Homo sapiens: one gene and its partners. The protein of the gene in region 1 interacts with the protein of each later gene in a biochemical or structural test. Each region holds a gene or a part of one and is shown in the gene's direction. Other genes may lie near its edges.

Region 1 (10,181 bases):
CTTTCTAATTGACAGATGAGCATGTCAACAGCTATCTTAACTGCCATATAAGTGCATTTTAATTTTGCCTTTACTTGTTTAGATCAGTAACTGCTTTGAAATTTCTCTTCATTTATGCTCTACTAATTTTGTTTATGCGTGAGCACCAAAAGTGTTGACTATTTCTACCTCACAGCAGCACGGGAGCCTCAAGAAACAGCCATTCTTCTAAAGAACCATCTCAACCACTGTTGGGTCAGGCCAGGCCATTCCAGGTTGTCCAGTTAAATGATTGCACTAGGAAATTTCCTATGGGATTCTTGCTTTATACCCAGGTATCGGGAGACACCAAGGAGCACTGAGCATGACAACCAGACCTGGAAACGTACTGAGCCCTGGAACTTTCATTCCTCTAGAAAATTTGTCACCAAGGGAAGTCCCCAAATGACCCTGGCACTAATGTGGGCTTTTACCTGCATATCTCTTGTTCCTTTTGCTGGTCTTTGCTGAGTTGTATGTCTGTTTTGATGCTGAAGATGTGACTTTTGGGAAAATCTCCTGGGATCAGCTCCAAACTAAACAGTGAAATATTTGACTACTGTCTGACAGAAGAAAGACAAAGTAAATTCCTGTCCGGAGAGTCAGCTATCTTAAAAGGTTCATGGCACTACAAGGTGGCATCTGAAAAACCATCTCTCTAGCTAAAGTCCATTCACCAATATCTGTTATGAATGACTAAGGCTGTACTTAGTCATGATAGCCACATAGGGCTATTTAAATTTAAATAAATTTCTATATGTTCATAAATGCTAAGAAAAATGAAATTCATAGAGGCAGCATCTTGTAACTGGATATACTCATGAAGGCTGCATACTAGATTAATAGTATTAATGCTTACTATTCTTCTACTGATTTTTACTAGATTGAGAATACTAAGGGCCCCATGTTGGCTTACTTAGGAGAGATTAGTAGAAATTTTGTTTTCACCAGTCATTGGAAAAATATTAATGGAAAACATTAATATAGATCCTTGAGGATTCTGTCATTGGTGGATCTATCACAAATAACCAGTGATCCAATATCATGGCAAAAGAAAGCCCAAGCTCTGGCCCCAACATATAGTGTCACCTACCTGAAGACCCCCTCCCTACTCAAAATGTTATTCTCCTCCCAGCCCCCAAGAATAAACAGAAATGAGCCAGAAAACAAGCTTAGGGAGATCAAAAGCAGTCAACACTGGATGGTGCGTTGCATCAGCCTCAGAGATGCTGCTGTTCATCCCAGAATGAGATGCTTATAAGCATTTCCTGAGAAGCATCTTCACAGAAATCATTGAAGTGCCATGAAGTCCCAATATGCCAAACATCTCCACAAACATAACTCAGTACACTCTAAAAATTAATATTATTGCTAGAATTTCTGCAACAAAATGACTCCACAATATTTTTTAAATTAAAGGTTTGACTTAGAATTCTTATGTAAATATATATTCAACTGATATTGGTAGTTATAAAATAGTGTTCTGAATCAACTATTTTCTGAATAGTTTTCTGAATCAAATTCAGCTTCAGAGTTTTCTCTTTTAGTCAAAACTTTGCCAAATTAAGCTGGTAACCGATGGCAGAGCCCAGCTTTCTGAAATATGGATTTAGACGTGCCTGTTTGTTTTTCCCTTTTTAATATCAATTATCTAATTCATAGGTCCAATACCTGTGCACCAATTCACATATATATGTTACCTCCTAATCTCTGGAAGCACAGTGGATGGGTCCCTAATATCTTGTCAGAGAGTTAATATTTTGGCCAAAAAAAAAAAAAATTATCAACTCGCTTTGTAACTTAGGAGAAACTCCTCAAGAAAGACAAATAATTGCATATGTGTCCCCACGCCATAATCTATGCTTATTTCAGCTGTCATTAGCTGGGGGCAGCATCTCTCCTTCTGAGTCCAGATGCCTCCTCCAATCCATCTCAAGCCTGCATTCCCAGAGGCCATTAGCAATTACTTGATTGGGATTTGGCATCCCTATTGTCTGTATATATAATGGTTCTTCATCTGATGATGAGTTCCTTTCCCCACACCAGTCCCTCCACTTGAATATTTACCTTGATCTACAGACTAATTTATTGCATTCTTAAAAGGAAACTGGAGTGAAATCCTTAGAAAAGAAAAAAATCTTCTTGAATGTAGGGGATTGCCATATATATAGCCTTTTAAAAATTTTTTTTAATTGTAATTTTTATTTTTGGGACGGAGTTTCGCTCTTGTTGCCCAAGCTGGAATGCAATAGTGCAATCTCAGCTCACTGCAACCTCCACCTCCCAGGTTCAAGCAATTCTCCTGCCTCAGCCTCCCAAGTAGCTGGGATTACAGGCGCATGCCACCACGCCCAGAAATTTTTTTTGTATTTTTAGTAGAAACATGGTTTTACCATGTTAGCCAGGCTGGTCTCAAACTCTGGACCTCTGGTGATCTGCCTGCCTTGGCCTCCCTAAGTGCTGGGATCACAGGCATGAGCCACCACACCCAGCTATATTTGCGGATTTTTTTTTTTAAGCCATCACTGTGCCTGTATTTATTCGGCAAAAGTTCTCCTGCACTACCTTATTATCTCCTCCAGGTATTCAATGCTGGATAAACAATGAAATTTTGTTTTCACCTGTCATTTCAAAAGCATAAGAGAAATAGCAGATTCCTCATGAACTGAATTCTGTTCTTTAGCCTCACGAAAGAAAACACAGTAGGCTTTTATTTTCCAAATTCACAGTCTGGCAGTTTGGGTCACTAGTGAATGTATCTTAGTTTTTTTGGAAGCACAATTTCCACTGTATAACTTAATGTGAAATTGTGTTTAAGTGATAATGTATGCCCTTAGGCTGGAAATGTACTTATCAGTTGTATTCTAGGCATGCCTTTATTCCAGGAGGCACAGGCATGCATGCATGAAAATACAGATGAAAAGAGGAATGGAAATGTAATTAGGTTTTGTAATTAGCCAGCGAAGACATCCATTGCTGCCTTCCTTTAATGGTCTTTTAAAGCTGTTTTAAAAATCCTTTCATTGAACTTGTAGTTATCTCAATTTGGTGATACAATTCAAAAAAATTAATCAAGTTGGTGTATGTAACCTTGGCAACCTAGAAGTATGATTCATTTTTATGACTATTGATCTATGTACTTAGATACACTAAGGTCAGCTATGCTGGCAGCAGTGACACCATATTGTCCTATGTTCCAATTCATAATCCTACTTCCAAAGAGACATTCATTCTCCCTGCTCTCTGCCTGGGCTTGGAGCATGACCCCCATTATAGACTTGGAAATCAGGGGGCAGAGAAGTGAAATGCCTTCCAAAACATTCATAGCAATTAAGTCATAGGATGATAGAGGAATTGCAATGTTCCAGGACTTACAATGTTGCTGTGTGGATGTTACTCTTTTTTTAAAAAACAGCTTTTACGAATTACATATGCACAATCAAGTGCAGACCATGGCTACCTCTGGCTAGACTGCCACTGCTAGGGGAAGAAAAGACATCCATACCCATTGCTTATGATTGCTGCTGCTGCTGTTGTCTCCAAAGAAGAAAATGGATTCTATTTTCTACCCTTATCTGGTTGAGGATGCTTAAAAACCAAAAGATGGAGATATTTTAAAGTTGAAGCAGATCCTTTCCTTAGTAGCGTTAAACTGGAATGCCTAAAACATAAACTAACACCCTGTTTTTTTTTCTCCTGGATTTCACTGGTGCCTGAGTAAGCGAATATGCTGTGCTGTTTTCCTGGACACTCAGAATCAAACAGGCCTTCCACCCCATCCCATCATGTTGAATTACAAAGTATTTTGAGCATCGTTTGGTTTGTTTCTTTCCACCCATACCTGTGTAGGGCAGCGGTAGCAGTCTTCAACAATGCATCCTCTTGGACAATGCATTGTAATATCTCTCTTTCAAATTCTGTTTCACATAGTCATTTCTCATGTTCTGTTGGAGACCCCCAAAAAATTCATTCCACACTGTCATCCCTTTGTCCTAACCAGAACAACTCGATCGTGTCGAAGAAGGCATGAACCATATCAACCAAGACATGAAGGAGGCTGAGAAAAATTTAAAAGATTTAGGGAAATGCTGTGGCCTTTTCATATGTCCTTGTAACAAGTAGGTACTGGGTACCAGCTCTAATCTGTGGCGTCCAGTTTTCTTTCTTTTTTTTTTTTTCTTTTTTAATGTCAAAGTGAATGTCTGAAGTTTTGTCTTTTTTTCTTTGTCCTTTTCCATCTGCTTCATTCTGTGGGGATAAAATACTTGTGTTTAATCAGAACAACTGGAACGCATTGAGGAAGGGATGGACCAAATCAATAAGGACATGAAAGAAGCAGAAAAGAATTTGACGGACCTAGGAAAATTCTGCGGGCTTTGTGTGTGTCCCTGTAACAAGTAGGTGCTGCCTGCCTGCCTGAAGCTTTGATTTCCCAAGGCCCATCTCCAAGCCTTGACAAGCTCATTCCTGCCAAGCTCATAGGCAGGATGAGCATGTGGCATGCAGAACAGATCAATACCGTCTCCAATGCATTCATCTCATAGCATAGATGATATTAGCAGGAGTTACTGTTGATGCATTAAAAATCAGGCATACTACAGTGAAAGCTTCACTGTCAGCAACTTTTATTGATGAACGTTTCAACATTTTCCAGAAAGTGTACCTTGAGACAGAGGCTAGCCTCAAGAAAGAGGCACCCAGGGAACTTCCTTTTCCCCAACCCCAAGAGTCAAAATTACAGATTTAGAAAAGGCTGCGGGTAAGTTTGGAAGATGAGAAACACATATGCGAAGGTTTGATTTTTTCCAAAATAAAAGAGACAGGTAATTTGGCCCAGGGAAGGATTCTATAAATTAGAGAATATGACAGAGATTCTCCCTTTCTACTGCCCACCAGTTGCCAAATTTTGTCAATAGATGCTGCCACTGCACCCAACACAGAGGCAATGAGCTCTTCAGCAAGAAGTGCTCAAGCCTTACTCAAATTGGACCCATCCCTCCCAAATTTTTCTCCTTGGAAGATCTACCCGTACACTGGCTGAAATGTTGAAATGTGTAGATTTTGCATGCACAACATCACAAAACATTCAACTGTTCTCAAGGTTCTGCAACGCTTTTTTGGAATGTAGCAGAAATGTGACATGTGGTTATAAAGGTTTGCAATGGAAGGAACCTAAAACTGAGGGTTCTGGAAGATTGTCTCATTTGACTAGTGGTGGAAAAAGAAATGCATGAGTGGATTGCCCAACATGCATTTGGAAAATTAAACTCCTTATCCAATCTCCCTCACCCCTCCCACTTCCCCCTTCTAAAAGAAGACTTTTTCCTAAAAGCTCTCCTGATCCTAGCTTTTAGAATAGAAATTGACGTCATTTTTAGCAGATTATATGACCATTCACATCCTTTAAACTTTGAGGCTGATTTAAAATATCCCACTTCCTGTTTAGGAGGGGGAGGGGCTCATATTGCAAAAAAATTAAAAAATTCTGCTTTTTAAAGAGTGATCTACAGTAAAGCCTGATTAACTGGAATCTAGCTAACTGGAAACCTCAGCTGCATGCTCTTGCTCCCTTCCATTTTTAGCAAAAAAGAAACAAAGAAAAAAAATCACATCAGAAATGTAAAATGGTTTTTCTTCCAGGGTAGTTTGCATTGTCTCACTTAGTCTCCATCCTCCTGCAACTTCCACATCTATGAGGACCAAACAATAAGAGTTGATCTTCACAGAAAAGGCCATCAAGCAATCAGTATAAATGATAACCAAGGAAAGATTCAATCAGGTCTTCTACCTTAAGACTTTCAGGCAGGAAAGTGGCTCAGGAGTCTAGCAAAGATATTCACTCATCATCCATGAAACAAAACTTTCCTCCATGGCCCCACTGTTCATTAAGAAAGTCATATAATTCATCAGAAAAAAAAAAAAAAAGCCTCATTACCAAGCATTCCAGTTAGTCAAGATTTGACTGTATATTCCTTTCAGTGGCAACTTGCCCCCAGGTGAGATTTCCATCCATTTCATGATAAATTCCAACAGATACATTTTCCCCCCTTCATCAACTGTGTGTGAAGAAAGGGTGAAGGCAGGGTCCCCTGGGATGGATTCTGATGTTCTAATGAAATGATGGCTCCTACGAATTCCACTTTTGAGTGGTCACTAATTTCCTTAATGCACAAGAGACCCTAAACTAAGCTTCAAAGCTTGACTGAGGTGTTCCCTATTGTGTGTAAATAATGCTTTAAAAACCATGTGTCACAACGCAGTGGCTGGTGGTGCCCTGGACTCTCTGAGGGCTTCGCCCTGTCTCGGCATGTTTCAAGGGACGATGGTAGATGTACGGCAGTGATGTGAGTCTATGTGCAGCATTGTGGGTGCAGTGGTTTGCCTTCTTTCAGAAACGCATACTTCCCACTCCTTTGACTTTGCCAAAGATGGTATAGCAGACATTTGACATAGCAGAAAACATCACAAAGTCCATATAACTTCTTTTAATCTGAGGAGGGAGGAGATGGGGAGTTGGAAAAATAAAAATTAAAAAAGCCAGACTCTAAGCCCTATTAAATTTAGTTTGGGGATCTCGTTTCATTGAATGGGTCCATGGCCCTTTGGTGCAATTAATTTTGACTGCACTAAGGCCTGCGGCATTATAGACTTGATTGTGGGAGTTGCTGAAATTCCATTGGTACAATTTTCCAGTTTGTCTCTAGGGTTGCTTGGCCCCCAGTCTGCAAGTATTAGAGCCAGTTTTAATAGATGGCTGTGGTCCTCTGGCGAAAGAAGAAGATAAAATGTTAAATTCTGGTGTCTTACAAAAAAAAATGTGAAAATGGGACCAAAGAATGTCTCTTGTTTTTGGACTAAAAAGCATATGGTTTCTACTATGTAAAGAACCTAAAAACATCTTTGATTGCCTTTAATTACAACACTCACCAAAATATGCTGCACATGTTTCTATTGGGCACAATAGGTATGCCTGGATTTTAAGTCTTTTCTCCAAGGCAGCTCAGTGAAATACAGCCCATGGAGACCATACCAGCATTAAACCACTCTCCTCCATTACAACCCCAGGATAGTTTAAACTAGGAGTTTGTAAGCACTCTCTGCCCTGCCCCTCAGCCCAACAAAGAAGCTACTGAACCTGCGTTTCAAATCCTCATGAAGGCTATTACTGTCCTGCTAGTGCCTTTTTCGAGAATGGTCAACTTCTGGAGTAGTTTGGCTTAAATGAGAATGCTTCACTTTCTACTCATGCCTGTAGCTGGTGCATGAAGAAGACGTAGAGGGGTTTCCCTTTTTGGTGCTAGATGGCTTGTTCTCTCTTCTCTTTTCCTGCATTCATTTCACTATGCTTCTTTTACTTTTTGTCTCTGTGGACAAAGGTTTGTACATCAACTCTGGATGTATGGTGACTGTTTGGAAGTACCGATATATTATCTAATTCAAATCACTCTAGAGGCAATGCAAAGACCATCACTCTTGGCCAACCACCAATCCTTTATGTCCTTCATGGAGCTTTGGAAATGTTAGTTCCACACGTGTTGGGAAAAAAAAATATTCCACAGGGATCTTTGCATGATGGTGTGTAAAAACTTGGTTGAGGATGTTTTCTTGATGACAGTGTGTTGCTGTGGTGTGATGTGCACACTCTACTTGGCAGTCTTGTTTTGTGTCTGTCTGCCAGTATGTTTTTCTCTGTTTTATGTCTCCAAATATAATCACATCACTAAAATAGAATTAAATGTCCTCCAGCTACCTTAATCCTTGTCCAAAATCCAAACTAAACCACAAAACAAACCAAAACAAGAACAACCTTGTGGGCAAAGATTGCAGTCCATTGCAATGGATTCGATTGGAAGTGAAATGTTGAGTAGCTGAGGCATGGTGGTGGCCAACTGTTTGGGTCTGGATTATGATATATCGGTATTATCTAATGCCTCGACTTAAAACTCATTCGCTTGGTTCGATTCTTCGCTTGAAGAAGTGACAATTGTTGAGAGCTTGCTCCTCCACCCCTGTGCCTTGTCACTCACCCTCTCTTTTGCATAGGCTTAAATCAAGTGATGCTTACAAAAAAGCCTGGGGCAATAATCAGGACGGAGTGGTGGCCAGCCAGCCTGCTCGTGTAGTGGACGAACGGGAGCAGATGGCCATCAGTGGCGGCTTCATCCGCAGGTGAGCCTCATGCAGCATACACTGTAGCAGTTCTCTATTGTCAAGTACAAACAACTCCAAAACTGAGTGGTTTTCTAAAAAACAACCATTTTATTGCTCATTAATCTACATACCTGCTAAGTGTTCTTTTCTAAGCCTTTCCTGGACCTTGCCTGGGTGGGGTGATCCAAGATGGCCCCATTCACTTGTCTGGTGGTTGGCTGGGGCTGTTGGTGGGGCATGTCTGTTCTTCTCCATGTGGCCTCTTCAGCAAGAGAGCCCAGGTTCCTTACATGGTGGTAGCAGTATTCCAAGGGGGCAAGCCTCAGTGCACTTACCAAACCTTTGCTTGCTTACCTTGTATTTGCCGGTTTCATTAGACAAAGCAAGTCACATGACCACATCCAGACTCAATGTGGCAGTAGACAGGCATCACATTCCATGAGTTTAATTGAATAGAGCTTATAAAAGAGACTACTTACAGAGGGGTGGGCAGGACTAATAACAAGGAATGGTGAAGCACTTCTGAGCTAGCAATAGCAGGAAGTTGTTACCACCATAGTCCTGGGGGACAGGAGAAGGAATGATTATCAGAACCCAGCAATAGTTACGACTGTGGGCAAGGAACTATCAGTAGAGAAATACAGCCACTACCAAAGCTAACAGGGAGTGAAAGAGGGAAATAAATGCTGTAGCCCCTCACTCCTCTTGCCCTGCAGTTTCATTGGCCATTAGCCAAAGCCTACTGAAAGCCAGAGGGTAAGAGGAGCTGGGTGATATAGTCATGAGGTCAGCTCCTGAGAGCACAGAGCAAAGAAGGTCCAAGAACGGATTTGGAGTGAAAATAGAGAATAATGAGCTTCTTATTAATGATTTATTTTGAAACCTAGAATCAAAAGCCAATTTAAATATCTATTTTTAAAAGTTCAAATTATGACTCAGGGGCATTTCCTTTAAAAAAAAAAAAAACTCAAGTTACACACATCAGCCAATTCAGAACTCAGCTCTCCCTTTGCTCCCAGGGAAAGTAGCCCAAGGGTTCTCAAGCCTGGCTGTACATTAGAATCACCAGGGGAGACTTTTTTTTCTTTTACTACCAGTGTTTGGGCCCAATCCACACCAATTGAACCAGAATCTCTTGAAGTGAGACACAAGCACCTGTGGCCCATTAAAGCTCCTCAGGTGATTCTGATATGCACTCAGGGCCAAGCACCATTGAACTAGAAGTATCTCTTAGCTATTGATGATCATTTAAATAAACTTCTTCCCTACAGGAAAAAGCCAGAAAGTTCTCCTTTAGTTTTTTAATTTTCTCTGCCCTGGGCTGCTTTTGAAACCATAATGAGCCAGTCTGCATTGGGAGTTACCATGGGGGAAGGATTTTAACCCTTCTGAATATTTTTTAGCTCAATACCATATATACTAGGGAAATTCTGAAATAAGTACCTCCTTAACTTTCAAGTTGGACTGTGAAAAAATGTAATGTGTTTTGTGAGCCAGCTCCTTCCTCCCATTCCCATTCCACTCAACCTGAAACAATACTCTTTTGTCACAGTTTCACAGTTTTTGACTCTGAAATCACCTATGCACCATGCCACTAAAAAACCCATGTTATTAACATATGAGTAAATAAAAATCATCTTGAACAAGTAGCTCTCCTTGGAGTTCCTGGGAGCAAGCAGGGTTAAGGGGCAAACTGTAATTATCATTACTCTTCCCATTGGTGTCAATCCCAAGTGTGAAAAGAGATGAGCACAGAGACTCTGACTTAGCACAATAAGCTTTTTATTGTATTCTTAATTTGAGTCTTAGAAATTTTGAGACTTAATTTGAGTCTTAGAAATATTAAGAATATTCTTAGAAAGAAGAATATCGTTTCTAATTCCATCTTCGTGCTCTGACCTAAAGTCCTTTCAAAGAAAATGTTTTCATCCTTAAACAATAAAAATTGAAATAAACATATGAAGGGGAAACAACATAATGGAAGGAGTGAGAAAGTAGATAAATTAATCTAT
Region 2 (5,263 bases), on another chromosome or scaffold:
GCGCCTGCACCTCCTGTCAGGCAGCCATCTGGACAGGCCCGGGCCCAGGGAGCAGGAGGGAGACTGCCCCGCTGTGCTCCGCGCACTGACCCGCCCTTGTCCTGCATAAGCTTCCAGCCACCCATGTTGGGCAGCCCACACCTGGGCCTTCCTGCACGGGCCTTCTGAGGGCCCACTAGGCTCCCTCAATACATTGCATCCCCCTACCCCCCGCAGCTCCCACAGCGGCTAGGAGGTGTCCACCTGGTTGCTGAATGCTGGCTGTTTGGTCCTATCATTCCTATTGTTGGTTCTCAGCATTGATTAGCACCCACTGCCCTTTTTTCTCACGAATACCGTGTTTTCAGGGTTCAGGGTCTCACCTCAGACGTGTCAGGGCCTCCTGGGCGCCCCCAGCAGCCACTCCCATCCTCAGGTGTTACTTCCTGGAGAGCTGCTGCCCAGCATCACGGTGGGCCTGGGGCTGGGTGTGCCTGGGCGTTTGTCTCTGGAGCAGACGCCTCAGAACTGGGTCTCAGCCAGACCACGTGGAAGCCAGGCTCTGGTGTGCAGCCCAGCCCCGGAGCCTGTTTTCCCGGCAGAGTGACCCTGGCCCTCAGGCCAAGTCCGGCGTGACCTCAGCCTCAGAATGACCTGGAGCCTCACTGCAGCAACTGGCACTTCAGGCCAAGCTCCGAGTGTCCCACAACCTGGTGGCAGGGCCTGGGGTCTCCTTCCTGGGCCCAGAAGGAAGGATCCCACACCGTTTGCAGACAGGGTCCCACAAGCCCCAAGGGTCACTCCCCTGACCTGGGAGGTTCCTTTGCTCACACAACTCATGTTCCGCCGTTACAGGCATGCTCCTCTGAGCACACACATGTTCCTGAGTGCTTTTGCTGTGGGCAGCACAGCCTCCTGGGCTGGATACACATGTTGCCGCCACATGCACAGACCCCCACACCCCTGGCTGGAGGGAGGCTCTCTGGCCGGACCTAGCTTCCAGTGGCATCGCTCTCCCCAGCACACCCCTGGCCCCACAGGACGAAGAGCACATGCTCCCTCCACTTCCGTGCCTGGAGCTGCTGCCCTTCCCGCTGTGGATGGCTAGGACGAGAACCAATCTGCTCTTGCTGCCCCACAGGGTCAGGGCTTTGTTCTGGGCCTGCAGGGCCCTCTGGGTGTCGCCCCTGTTGTGCGGAGAACGTTCCTACCCTGTGCTCTTCGTTTCACTGAGGAGACCCCTGGAGTCCCGGCTCTGTCAAGAGTGCGCAGGGGCTGCTGAGGACTAGGGCGAGCCCACGGCCCCTCTCTCCTCAGTGGCCAGGTGGTGGTCTGGCCACAGGCGGCTGGGAACGTGGCGCCCTCCTTTCCATCTCACTGAAGGTGGCCCTGGCCCCCCACACCCAGAGCCACCTGCAGCCCTAGGGGAGGGGAGAGGTGCCGAGACTGCCCTCGGTGGGGTTGGGGAGCACACAGGCAGCCCCCCCTCCATTTGGGAGGAAGGAGGGGCCTCCTTGGAGATCCAGGGGGTGCCCAGCACCAGGAGCAGAACCAACTGCTTCTATGGGGAGGGGCTGCTGAGACAGGAGCAGGAGATGGCAGGGGAGGGGCTCCTCCTGGGCAGAAAGGCCCCTCCCTGTGGCTGGTGATCCCGCGGTGTGCTCCTCCGTCCTGTAGAGTGCTGGTGCCCACTCCCCTCCTAAGTTTTCTCCTGGACGCAGCTGCTGACGCCTTCACTACTCCAGAGCACCTGTAATCTCAGATCCAGGACCTTGGACCTGGCCCGGGGGTCCTGTTCAGGGGATGGAAGTCCAGCTCCGTACAACACCAGGCCCCCAATCCTTCCAGGCCAGCCCAACCCCACTGGTTCCCACCTTCCTGGGCAGCAGGAGGCTGTTCCGTAGTTCCGTGGCCTGACCATGACCACAGGCTTCCTGGGCTGGTGGCTCACGGGAGGGCTGGAGGAGTGTGGCGTGGGGAGGCGTATTGATCTAGAAACCAAAACCCCGGGGCCTGACAAAAACTTAGAGGCCTGGAGGGCAGAAGAACAAAATCCCACACTCCCTCTGGAGGCTCTGGGGGAGGGCCCTTCCCTGCCCCTTCCTGCGTCTGGCGGCCCCGAATCCCTGGTGTTTCTTGACCACTCGCGACCTCCTCCGCTTTCGTATGCCCGCCCCCATCCGGGTGTCTGTCCTTTCTGTCTCTTACAAGGACACTCTCACTGGACTTGAGGCCCCTCAAATCCAGGATGGCCTCGTCCCCATCCTTACCATTATGAGATCAACAAAGACCTGTTTCCGAATGAGATCACCTTTGAAGCTCCAGGCAATATGAATTTGAGGGGGACAATATTCAGCTACTACGGAGGGCAGACGCACTCACGGGAGATGAGAAACGCGGGTGGGCAGGGGGTCGGTGAGGCCCAGGCATACTGGCTGAGGGCACGACTAGGCGGGATTCCAGGACACCCAGTGCCTGGAAGTGACCGCAGCCCAGGACCCTCTGCCGGCTGCCCACGGAGCTGCAGCGGCCTGCCAGGGAGTGGCCCTGCTGGGGCCGCGGCCGCATCCAGGCAGCCTTGGCCAGGCCCGGGAGTGTGAATGCAGGTCGTGGACCAGGCACTGGGCAGGAGGGTCAGCTGCGGGTTGACTGTTTCTCCCCACCTCTGCCACGCAGCATCCTGCCCACCCCTCCCTGCCCCGGGCCGGAGGCTTCCTGGAAGGCAGGATGCCAGGGGCTGGGCTGGGTTTGGAGCCAGAGGTGGGGCCACAGCCCTCTCTCCTCTCAAGGAAGATGGGAGCCTCCCCCTCCCTGCTCCCCCCCATGTCAGCTCCTGGCCCCCATTCTCCGTGGGGGCTTCCCATTCCTCCAGGGACCCCCCGGGGTGGGGTCTCTTCTCCTTCTGGGGTCCTTGTGTGCCTGGTGGGGTAGGGGGCCGCACCCACGCCTTCGGGGGTTCCTGGGCCAGTCCCTGGCGCAGGGAGGCTGCGGCCCGCCCGGGAGCCGCCGGGACCCCCGCCCTGACCCCCGCCTCCCCCGCAGTACGGCATCAAGAAGAAGGAGGAGCGCGAGGCCGAGGCCCAGGCCGCCATGGAGGCCAACTCCGAGGGGAGCTTGACGCGGCCCAAGAAGGCCATCCCGCCGGGCTGCGGGGACGAGGTGGAGGAGGAGGACGAGAGCATCCTGGACACCGTCATCAAGTACCTGCCCGGGCCGCTGCAGGACATGCTCAAGAAGTAGCCGCGCGCGGGACAGCGGCCCCGCGGAGCCCCCGCCCCTCCCCCTACAGATCCTCCGCGGAGGCCCCTGAGGGACGAGCAGAGCGCAGCCCCCACGCCGATATAAGCCATAGCCCCAGGCCCGCCCTGCCCGCGCCCGCCGCCTCCCTCACCCGGCAAGGGGCGCGCGCCCCCAGGACCCCCCCAGTCCGCCCCGTGCTCCTCTGCCCGCGGGTGGCTGGAGCCCCATCGCCTGGGACGCCCCTTTCTCTTGCTGTTTACCGCCCACCCAGCAGCGCCCGAGGCCAGGGCCGCCGAAGGGCAGCCCCGCGACCACCCCTGTGCGCGCGTTCGCGGCGGTGGGCGCCTGTCGGGCCCGCACTCAGGAGCACAGCCATAGCAGACGGGGGGCTGCGGGCGGGGCGAGGGCGGCGGGGCCTGGGTCCCCCTCCTGCACGCGGACTCCGGGGTTCGGATCGCTCCGCCGTGAGTATTTGCGTCCGCACGCGGCCGCTCTCCGCCCCCCGGCCTGGCCCCCTCGCGCCCCTGTCCATCCGTCTCTGTCCGCGTCCTTTCCTCTCCTCTCTGGAAGGTTTTGCTTCTTACGAACGCCACGGCCGTGTTCACTTCTAAACTAAAGGAAACAAAGCAATAGGTTTGGGGGACGCCCAGCCCCCACCCCCGTCACCCCGCTCTTCCCAAGTCCTCGCCCCCCGCCCGGCCTCCTAGCCTCTCCGCCCACGCGGCTGCTGCTTCTCCCTGGGGAGGACCCCTGCCCTCGGCCATTGAACACTGCACCCTCCACAGGAGCCGCAGAGGCCCGAGGCACCGGACGCTGGAGACCCTGCGCCCCTGCCCAGCACCTCCTCCGTGGGCAGCTCCTCGGGTGGGGCCTGCGGGGTTCCCTGCGCGCAGCTGGCGCGTGTGTGGCCTAATCCACCTGGTGGCCCTGCGGGGCGGCATCCGAGCCCCTGTTTCTCCTCCATTCATGTTTAATTTGCATCACAATTTGTTGAATCTCAGGTAAATGAGGTCTTTGCATTTAATGAGTTTTATCTTGACAGGCGCCGCCTCGCCCCCGGGCCCTTTCGTCCACATCAAAAATGCATCAAGTCTCCACGTGTTTCGGGCCAGGGCGTGGCTTGGCATTGACCTTCATGACCTTACATAGCTTTAGAGAAGCCATAACGTTAGACTGCAATACTAACGACCGACGCCCCTCCGGGCAGAGACCACCGCGCCCCTCTGCGCCCCAGCGACGCGGCCCGCGGGGACGTCGCTGTCCGTCCTGCTCGCCCTGTGCCCTCTCACTGACTTCTCCCGGGTCGTGTCTTTTAAAAACTCCTGTTTTCACACCTTACAAAGCCAGCTCTGAGCAGACAGGGCGTCCTCTCGTAGAACCTGCGCACCCCGTTCCCAGCGCATGGCGCCCCGGGCCGCGAGCTTAGCTTAGACCGTGGTGTCCTCTGTCCGTCTGTCCTGCGCCTGCGCCTCCTCCTGCATGTCGGGGCCCCTGCGTGTGTTCTCTCCGGATGGAATCACAGCCAATAAACACCAGTGATTTCACACCGTGTGGCCATTCCTTCCAGAGGTCCATTTCGCCAGCCGGAGGACCGGGGCTTTCCCCCGCGCATGTTCTCTCCACGGCGGCTGCAGGGCCTCCCACCATTCTCACTCAGCTCCATCCAGTCAGACCCATTTTCCCTAGGCCGTCCAGCCAGCGCAACCTCCATCTAAACACAAACCTGCGCCTTCAGGGTCTCCCGCCCCCCAGGGTGGTTCTTCCACCCGCAAAGCATCTGCCCTCTGCTCTCCCTCCCACCTAGGACCCCCGACCACAGGCCTGTCCCTCTCCTCAGCTCCACCGGGCCCAGGGCCCCAGGTCACCCTGTGCTGCCCTTACCTCGGCCCACCCAGGAATTCCTGCCCCCCAGCACCCCCGTGGGACTGTCCCTCCTCCTGAGTCCTGGACCCGGATCCCTGCAGGGAAATGTCTGCCAACCTGGGCTGAGGCCAGAAGAGGTTCCTGACCCCAACCCAGAGAACAGCCCCTCTGCCTGGTTGCT
Region 3 (7,593 bases), on another chromosome or scaffold:
TTACAGGCGTGAGCCACTGCACCCGGCCTGAATCACGTTTAATAGTAGTGAGCATATCAATCTGGTTATTGGGACTATTAAGACTTTTGTGACTTTAAAACAAACAATTTTTTTTTGTTGTTGAGATTGTGTGTTGCTCTGTCGCCCAGGCTGGAGCGCAGTGGTGCGATCTTAGCTCACTGCAACCTCTGCCTCCCAGGCTCAAGTGATCCTTCCGCCTCAGCCTTCTGAGTAGCTGGGACTATAGGTGTACACCAACACGCCAAGATAACTTTTATATTTTTTGTAGAGATGGAGTTTTGCCATGTCACCCAGGCTGGTCTTGAACTCCTGGACTCAAGCGATCCACTTGCCTTGGCCTCCCAAAGTGCTGGGATTACAGGCATGAGCCACTGCGCCCAGCCAGTGACTTTTAAAATATTTTTCTGAATAAAATATAGCATGCATTGTTAAAAAAAAACCTATAAAATACAGAAAACATAAAACTAATGAACTTTTAATATTATTGCTGATAACCTTGTGGCACGTTCACATACTCAGACATAGTTTTACATAGTTCAGACTATATTATCCAGTTTTGTACCCAGTTAGAAAATTATAAGCATCATTCCACAGCATTAAAATCTCTTTGTAAATCTAATTTTCAATATGAGATTGTGGCCATACTCTCAAATATTTAACATTTTCACAATGTTGGAGGTTTATGTTATTTTGCTGTAGCTAACAGTGTGACTAACCTTATTTAATATTTTTCTCATTTAAATTTTCTCTTTATTACCAACTCATATAAGTTGGAGTACTGAAATAACAGGTATAAACATTTTTAAGACTTGGCACATAATACCATGCCAGTACCCAGAGCTGTGCCTTCCTTTTATATTTGTTTCAGTGTGTCTCTTCTTATTCCTCCTCCTTCCATGTGACCAGGGGATCTAAAAGTCAGCTTATTACAGCATTGAGCATTCAACTTCATCTTGAAAGATAAGCAACAGTGAGATGAACAACCTCTCATAGACAGGTGGTTGGTTGATTTTTTTTTTCCCCTCTTTTTTCTGGCACTTGGAGTCTAGCCCTTGACTTTTTTGTATGTGAACTTTAAATTTTGGTTTGGCTCTGAACAATCTGATTGAAATAGATGTTGAAATTTTAAAAAGATATAAGAGTTGTTATTTTTCCATATCCTTGGATGAAAGATGATATGCAAATTTGTGGTGCCCCTTTCTATTCCTAATTCCAGGACTTCAGAAGGTATATGAATCATTTTTCAGGACGTAACTCCTCAAAGAGGAGCAGACTAATTAATATGTTGTTTTTGGTTGACTAACCCTATCTTTAACCTGCTAAATTGCTGAGCAGTTGTTAAGCTGCTTTTTTTGTAGTGTATTCCATGTTCCCTAACAAAGTCAAGACTGATTGTTGCCTAGGTCTGGACTCTCCTCTTCCTCCATGTCACCCAAGGGAGAGAGGTCTCTGAACAGGAGGGTAGACAGTGTGTTTATATTTCCTAGTAATGTGCCAGCTGCTTGCTCTAAGATCATAGTATCCTCATTTTACAGACGGGGAAAGAGCAATGAAGTTAAGGAACTTGCCCAAGACTACATAGCTCATAAGGTGGAGCAGCCATAATATGACCCCTGAACTTTTTCCATAGGCTTTTCATTGTGTCCTTCTGTTTTCTAAAAGAAAGGCAGCAGGGAGTTCATGAAGATCGAGAACCAGAAAGCAGCTCCTGCAGCCTGTCTTCAGGAGCGGTGTTGCTGTGGGACCTGCAGAGCAGGTGTTTTCACTAGGGATTGTCCCTTCCCACCACGTCCTTCCATGGGTGTGGACAGCCTGTGAGAAGGCTTATAAAAGGCCTAGAGGCTTTTCTATTTTTTTCCCCTCTCACAGTAGGGCTTTTTGTTCTTTGTACAGTGGGATATTTAACTCCAAGTTCTGTCCTGGGTTTGTCTATTTCATAGTGATTTCTGGTCTTTCCTCCCCACCTTCCAGGTTTGTGGCTGACTCCTTCTGTTGCCCTTTGCCTTCTTCCTGTGTACTGATCAGCTCCTCCTTTCCCTGCCTCCTAGAAACTGATTTCACTCCAGACTGGTGTGGCCACCCTTGTCTTCAGATGAGAATGGAGTCTGAATGGCCTTCCTGAGAGCGAGTGCGACCCGTTCCTTTGTTTCCTTGCAACCACCCTTGGACCTGACTCAGCTAACAATCTAGCCCTGGGGGAATGTGATCTACCTGATGCGACCCTGAGTTCTCCCCAGAGCCTCCTCCTGCCCCACCAGCTCTCAAGTACCTTTTCTCCTGGACTGTGTGGACCCACCCAGCTTTCTTCCTCCCTGTTGTGTGTCAGATTATGCCTTGCACTTGGGAAAGCTCTTGTGAGACTCTCCCAAGGTGCTGTATTTTTCTACCTCATGGAGTATTCTCCCAGAAACTGCAATGTATTTTTTTAGGGGAGTATCTTTAACAAAGCAGAATGATTCTTCTAAGTTTGGCAACAAGAAGGCTTGGATCTGAGTCTTCTACCTGGCAGGATGCCAATCCTGTTTGTTGTCCGTATGTCCTGAAAACATGAGGGACTGGCAGATGTCATTTTGGTCTAAAGAGCTGACTTGTTTGAAATTCAGCCTTAAATTAAGCTCTTAGTTGTTCAGCTTGGGGGGCAACTTTGATTTTTCTCTGTGTTGTAGTCTCTCATATTTACTCAAGGAGGGACCAGGATGATACAGTCATCTGAGGTTATGCTTTGCAAAAGGCTGACGGTATGGAATATGTTTCCATGTCTGAGTCTTAGAAACTGGCTGCTCATTGTTAGAAAGTGATGCTTTGTGAGACTATTGTCTTGGGGCCAAAAATAATCAGGGATTTTAAATTGGGCAAGGGACAAGGTGCTAGAATCCTAAGCTCTGGAAATATTTCATGACACTGGTGTATTCACTCATGTGTTCCAGATGTATTCTAATTGTGTATGAAATGTATGTACACATAAGTGTGTGTGTCTCAGGAAGTAGGAAATAAAAATGGAAGCTATTATGACCTCAAAAAAAAAAAGCCAACTTTGAGCTAGGATAAAAATTGGGTAAAGGACATTTGCTTACCTGCAAATGAATCACTGTGGAAATGTGATCTTCCCATATCATCAAGAAACTTGTTTTCTGGATGAATACTGGGAGAATAAAATGAGAACTCTGGAGTGAGCTAAATTGATCCCAATTAAGTTTTTCTGCTTAGCAGACAGAAGGTATAATTTTTTGACACCCTTTCCCACCTGGTGCCTATGCTAGGCTTGTCCTGAGAACATCCCTCAGTAACTTGATATTCACATGACCTACAGGATGTCCCATCTGCAGGGCTGAGTCAGTTGGGGAACACCAGAGGCTACACAGTAGCTCTTCCTGCTACTCGGTTAATGAGCTTGGCAGGTTCTTTGTCTCACTGAATTCTTATCATGGAAACAGCAGCAGCAGCCGCTAGGAAATCTTCAAGTGTAGTGTCTGTGCTAACCCAGTGGTAAATCCCTTAGATCCCCTGCTGGTCTCTGGCAGTCTCCTTGATTTTGGGTACCATGTATATTTTCCGCTTTGACTTTAACGCTTTCTAGGATAGGGTAAGCACCCTTAATTCAGGCACTGTCCATTAGCTTCCTTTGCAAAGGCTACTTATGGCCGGTCACAATCCAGCACTCAGACAGAGCCAAGGCAATATCCTCTTGCCCATGGCTATGATGTCAGACAGTGGATGGGCTCCAGCAACAAGAGACAAAATAACTAAAGGCCTTTGCTCTCCTCTGACATTGAGGCCTGGGGCTTACAGTTTGGAATACAACATGTGAAGGTTTTTGTTGTTGTTTGTATTTTTTAGATGTAAACTTGATTATTTTATTGCTAATTTAAAAATAAAAATGACTTTGTATTGATTGTGAAACGGTTCTGGCTCTGTCTCGATGCAGAAACACAATGATCTGGTGCCACCATGTGGTGATTTTTATTCAGGTTTTAGAATGCAGTTCACACCTTTTTAAGCCATGTGCTGGATCAGATGGTTCAAAAGTGCAATTTTTGAACATGGTTTAACTCCCACAGAATGCAGTGTAACTATGTTTGTGTTTCAGATTTGAGGTGTTCCCCCCAAAAGAATTTGGTTCAGTCCTTGGGAGTATCTGGCTTTAGGAGGAAATGGGGGAGATCTGTCACGATGTTATCTAGAAGGTGGAATGACCATACCAAACATCCTTTTAATCTAACTTGAATGTCTCACCAAAAATAACATTTCTGTTGGCATTCTGGGTCCTAGAAGCCAGATCCATCTCCTTTTTCCTTCTGTTGCTCTCTTCCTTCACACCCTCTTCCATGTCCACATGCACTTATCTCCCTGCAGAATACTTTTTGCGATGATGTTTCTCATGTATTCTTTCTTTCCTTGTCTGGATGAGCAGAAGAAGATCATGATCATGATCTGCTGTATTATCCTTGCGATCATCTTAGCTTCCACCATTGGGAGCATATTTGCCTGAAAAAGGTGAGCCATCTGTGGGGAGGGTCAGACCTTCTTTCACTGACTTGAAACCTTTGTGTCTTGGGGGCACTCTAGGTGCCTTAATCTGGGTGGGATTAGGTGCTAATAATGGTTAGAGAAAACTAAAGAAAGGGATGTTTCAGAGACAGAAAAGTGAGTGAAGAATGAACTGTTAGTAGGTAGTCTGTGGGAGGAGGGGGGAGACAGAAGGTGGCAATCTGTCCTATAACCTGGTGTGGCAGAATGCTTTGTACAGGTGAAGGATAGTGATTCCTGCTAAACAGTTTGAGCCTTGGTATCTGGAAGTGACAAAAAGAACAAGAATTAGTTCTTGCATTAGGTGCATCTTGAACTTTTTGGAAGAGGGCCGGCCACACAGTAAATTCAAATTAAATTTCTTCCCTTTCAAGGTTAATGAAAGTTAACACAGCCTTGTATGTAGTCCTTTACCCCGGGTAAGAGGGATTTGGTGATCCCAGCCACGAACACCATGCTATATAATCTATGATTTTTTTCCTCCATTTTTCTGTTATCTCCCACAGCCCTCACAGATTGATCGACTGGCATTTCTAATCCTCCTTCCACTTCTGTGGTACCATCACTTCTCCACGCAGACTCCTCATCAGCTTCTCCTCTTTCCATTATGAAACTTCTTAAGAAACAGGGCACCAATCAACTACTTATTAAGAATTATGCAAAGAATAAACGTATACAGAATTGGGCGGAGGACAGGGACAGGGAGTACAGATACATAGCTGATTAGGCAGATGGTTTAAAGGAGGACTGCAGGGTAGAGAAGCAAGCAGAGTGGGCGCCTCTTTAGGAAGTGACACAGCCTGCATGTGCAGTATGGCTGTGAAGGGGCAGATATCATAGCACACCTAACTCAACAGGATCTTACTTGAACTGCTGTGAGTTGGTCAAGTCAGGGCACTTCTGCTCTTCAGGCTCCTCTAGGTCACACCTTTGACCACCCTACATCTGTTTCCTCTTTCAGGCTCCAGTAGTAGTCTTAAAAGTGAAGTTTATCTAAGGATAAGCACATGCCTATCTTGCTCACTGCTGTGTCCCCACTTTTTAGCACAGCGCCTGCTGCTTACAGGTACTCAAATATCTGCTGACTTAATTACTTATAATTAAGCTCTTATTTCAGTCATGGACAAATCCTTGGGTTTGACTCCTAAACTCTTTAAGGTACCAATGAGAACGTGGTTTGTTACTGTCAGAGGCTGTGTAAAGCCGCTTGGGAATGGGCTGATCTGCTTATGCAAAAATGCTACCAACCTTTCAAACCCCATTACCACAACATGAAAATTTAAAGTGCTTTTTCTATGGGTGGTGATGGTGGAGTTCTAGCAACAGCCTCTTAATCTGTGGAGAAGATGGCTGGCTCCAGGACTGTGGTTCAATAACGAAATACAGGCCCACAAAATAAAATAGGTTTATAGCATGACTGAACTCACACATCAGTAGAACACTCTGTGAACCATAACAAAGAACAGATAAAGGTGTCAAGTGAGAAAGGTGAAATGAGGTTATCACTCACTTCACCTCTCACCTGATTTGTGTTGCTAGCTGAAACTGCTGGCCAGTAACGTATGTATAAGAAACTGTTATAGGCCGGGCACGGTGGCTCATGCCTGTAATCACAGCACTTTGGGAGGCCAAGGCAGGTGGATCACCAGACTGACCAACATAGTGAAACCCCCTCTCTACAAAAAATACAAAAATTAGCCAGGCATGGTGGCTTGCACCTGTATTCCCAGCTACTTGGGAGGCTGAGGCAGGAGAATTGCTTGAATGCAAGAGGCGGAAGTTGCAGTGAGCCGAGATCGCGCCACTGCACTCCAGCCTGGGCAACAAGAGCTAAATTCCATCTAAAAAAAAAAAAAAAACAAAAAAAAAAAACTGTTCTTAATACTTAATACTGTCCCCAATTCCATTCAAGGTTCAGTTGTGTTCAGCTTTAAAACCAGCTATGTGAATGTGAGTTCTAGTGCAGATTATTTAGTGATTATGTAACTAAAATTGATGAAAAAATCACACTATACAACTGTGAGGAGCACACAACTGCTAAGTTTGTACTTTTGAAAGTAAATTATTCTTTGTTTGATACCTTATTTTTTAAGAAAGTGGGATTAAAAATATTTTGGTCAGTGCTGTTTTCTACCCACCTTCAAAAGCCAATGGTTTGATATTTCTATTAATTTGTGCTTCCTTTAGTTTTAATAGGGGATAGAAGACTGCAGCTGGTTGGGTCTGGAAAACATTAATCTGGGCAAACGGAGCTGGAGCTATGAGGATCTGAGTCCTAGGGGGCCCTCATTCACTAGCAGTAAGAATTTAAGTGGTGCATGGCACATAGCACTGTACTAGATTCTGCAGGGGCACAAACATAGAGCCAAACACTCTCCCTCTTGGAGAATTTCAGACCCAGAAAAGGCCACGCAGTTCTAACTTTTGTCATCGGTTCCTTTTGCTAAAAGGCAAAGGGTATGTTCCTTGCCTATTGTCCAACATACCCCTTCCAAGATTGTGAGAAGATGGGTAGCTGGGCATCAATAAATATTGAATCAATTGACCTATGTACTGTTGTTTTTTTCTTACTCTAAAAATGTGTTTTTAACCTAGTAAAATATCACAGAAACTGGCTCCTGAAGTGTGTACGTATAAAAGGCAGTATAAACATTTAAGTGAGACTCGCATCATAGATGGGGGAATGCAAACATTTGTTTCAGCCTTCATGTTCATCTTACACCCCAGGAGGACCAAGAACTCTTTAGTCATTGAGGCCTATTTCTTAATCTTTTAAGGGATTAAGAATGACCAATGAGAAGTTATATCCTGAAGTGATGTTTAAATTTTATTTAATAAAAATACAGTTTTCTTTTTAAATCAACAAATAACATTGTTTTTCAGAAATCTACTCAAATGCTGCTCCTTAGTTATGGCTTAAGAGCTACCCAAAGACTTCAGTGGGTAGGCTGAGGGGAATAGAAATGCAGAATCCTTCTTTCAGTAGCCTATATACAGTTATCTCCTACACTCACTACACACGTTTGGGCATGTAGAACTTGCCCC

What was found. The genes of interacting proteins can lie anywhere in the genome.
Region 2: the proteins of SNAP25 (region 1) and CPLX1 are reported together in a solved structure, tested with the Homo sapiens proteins (2 studies listed by BioGRID, with this or other methods).
Region 3: the proteins of SNAP25 (region 1) and STX3 form a complex in vitro, tested with the Homo sapiens proteins (2 studies listed by BioGRID).

Annotation. Positions count from the first base shown.
Region 1 is NC_000020.11:10,288,864-10,299,044, forward strand, and holds part of SNAP25 (synaptosomal-associated protein 25), read left to right. Parts: intron 1-4,018; coding exon of another isoform or gene 4,019-4,136; intron 4,137-4,297; coding exon 4,298-4,415; intron 4,416-8,061; coding exon 8,062-8,187; coding exon of another isoform or gene 8,188-8,191; intron 8,192-10,181.
Region 2 is NC_000004.12:784,457-789,719, reverse strand, and holds the end of CPLX1 (complexin-1), read left to right. Parts: intron 1-362; exon of another isoform or gene 363-1,771; intron 1,772-1,853; exon of another isoform or gene 1,854-1,946; intron 1,947-3,021; coding exon 3,022-3,219; 3' UTR 3,220-4,763; downstream 4,764-5,263. UniProt on the Homo sapiens protein: Positively regulates a late step in exocytosis of various cytoplasmic vesicles, such as synaptic vesicles and other secretory vesicles.
Region 3 is NC_000011.10:59,798,786-59,806,378, forward strand, and holds the end of STX3 (syntaxin-3), read left to right. Parts: intron 1-889; exon of another isoform or gene 890-2,069; coding exon of another isoform or gene 2,070-2,117; 3' UTR 2,118-4,432; coding exon of another isoform or gene 4,433-4,510; 3' UTR 4,511-7,093; downstream 7,094-7,593. Other genes in the region: MRPL16 (large ribosomal subunit protein uL16m), read right to left, coding at 7,562-7,593. UniProt on the Homo sapiens protein: Potentially involved in docking of synaptic vesicles at presynaptic active zones. Apical receptor involved in membrane fusion of apical vesicles.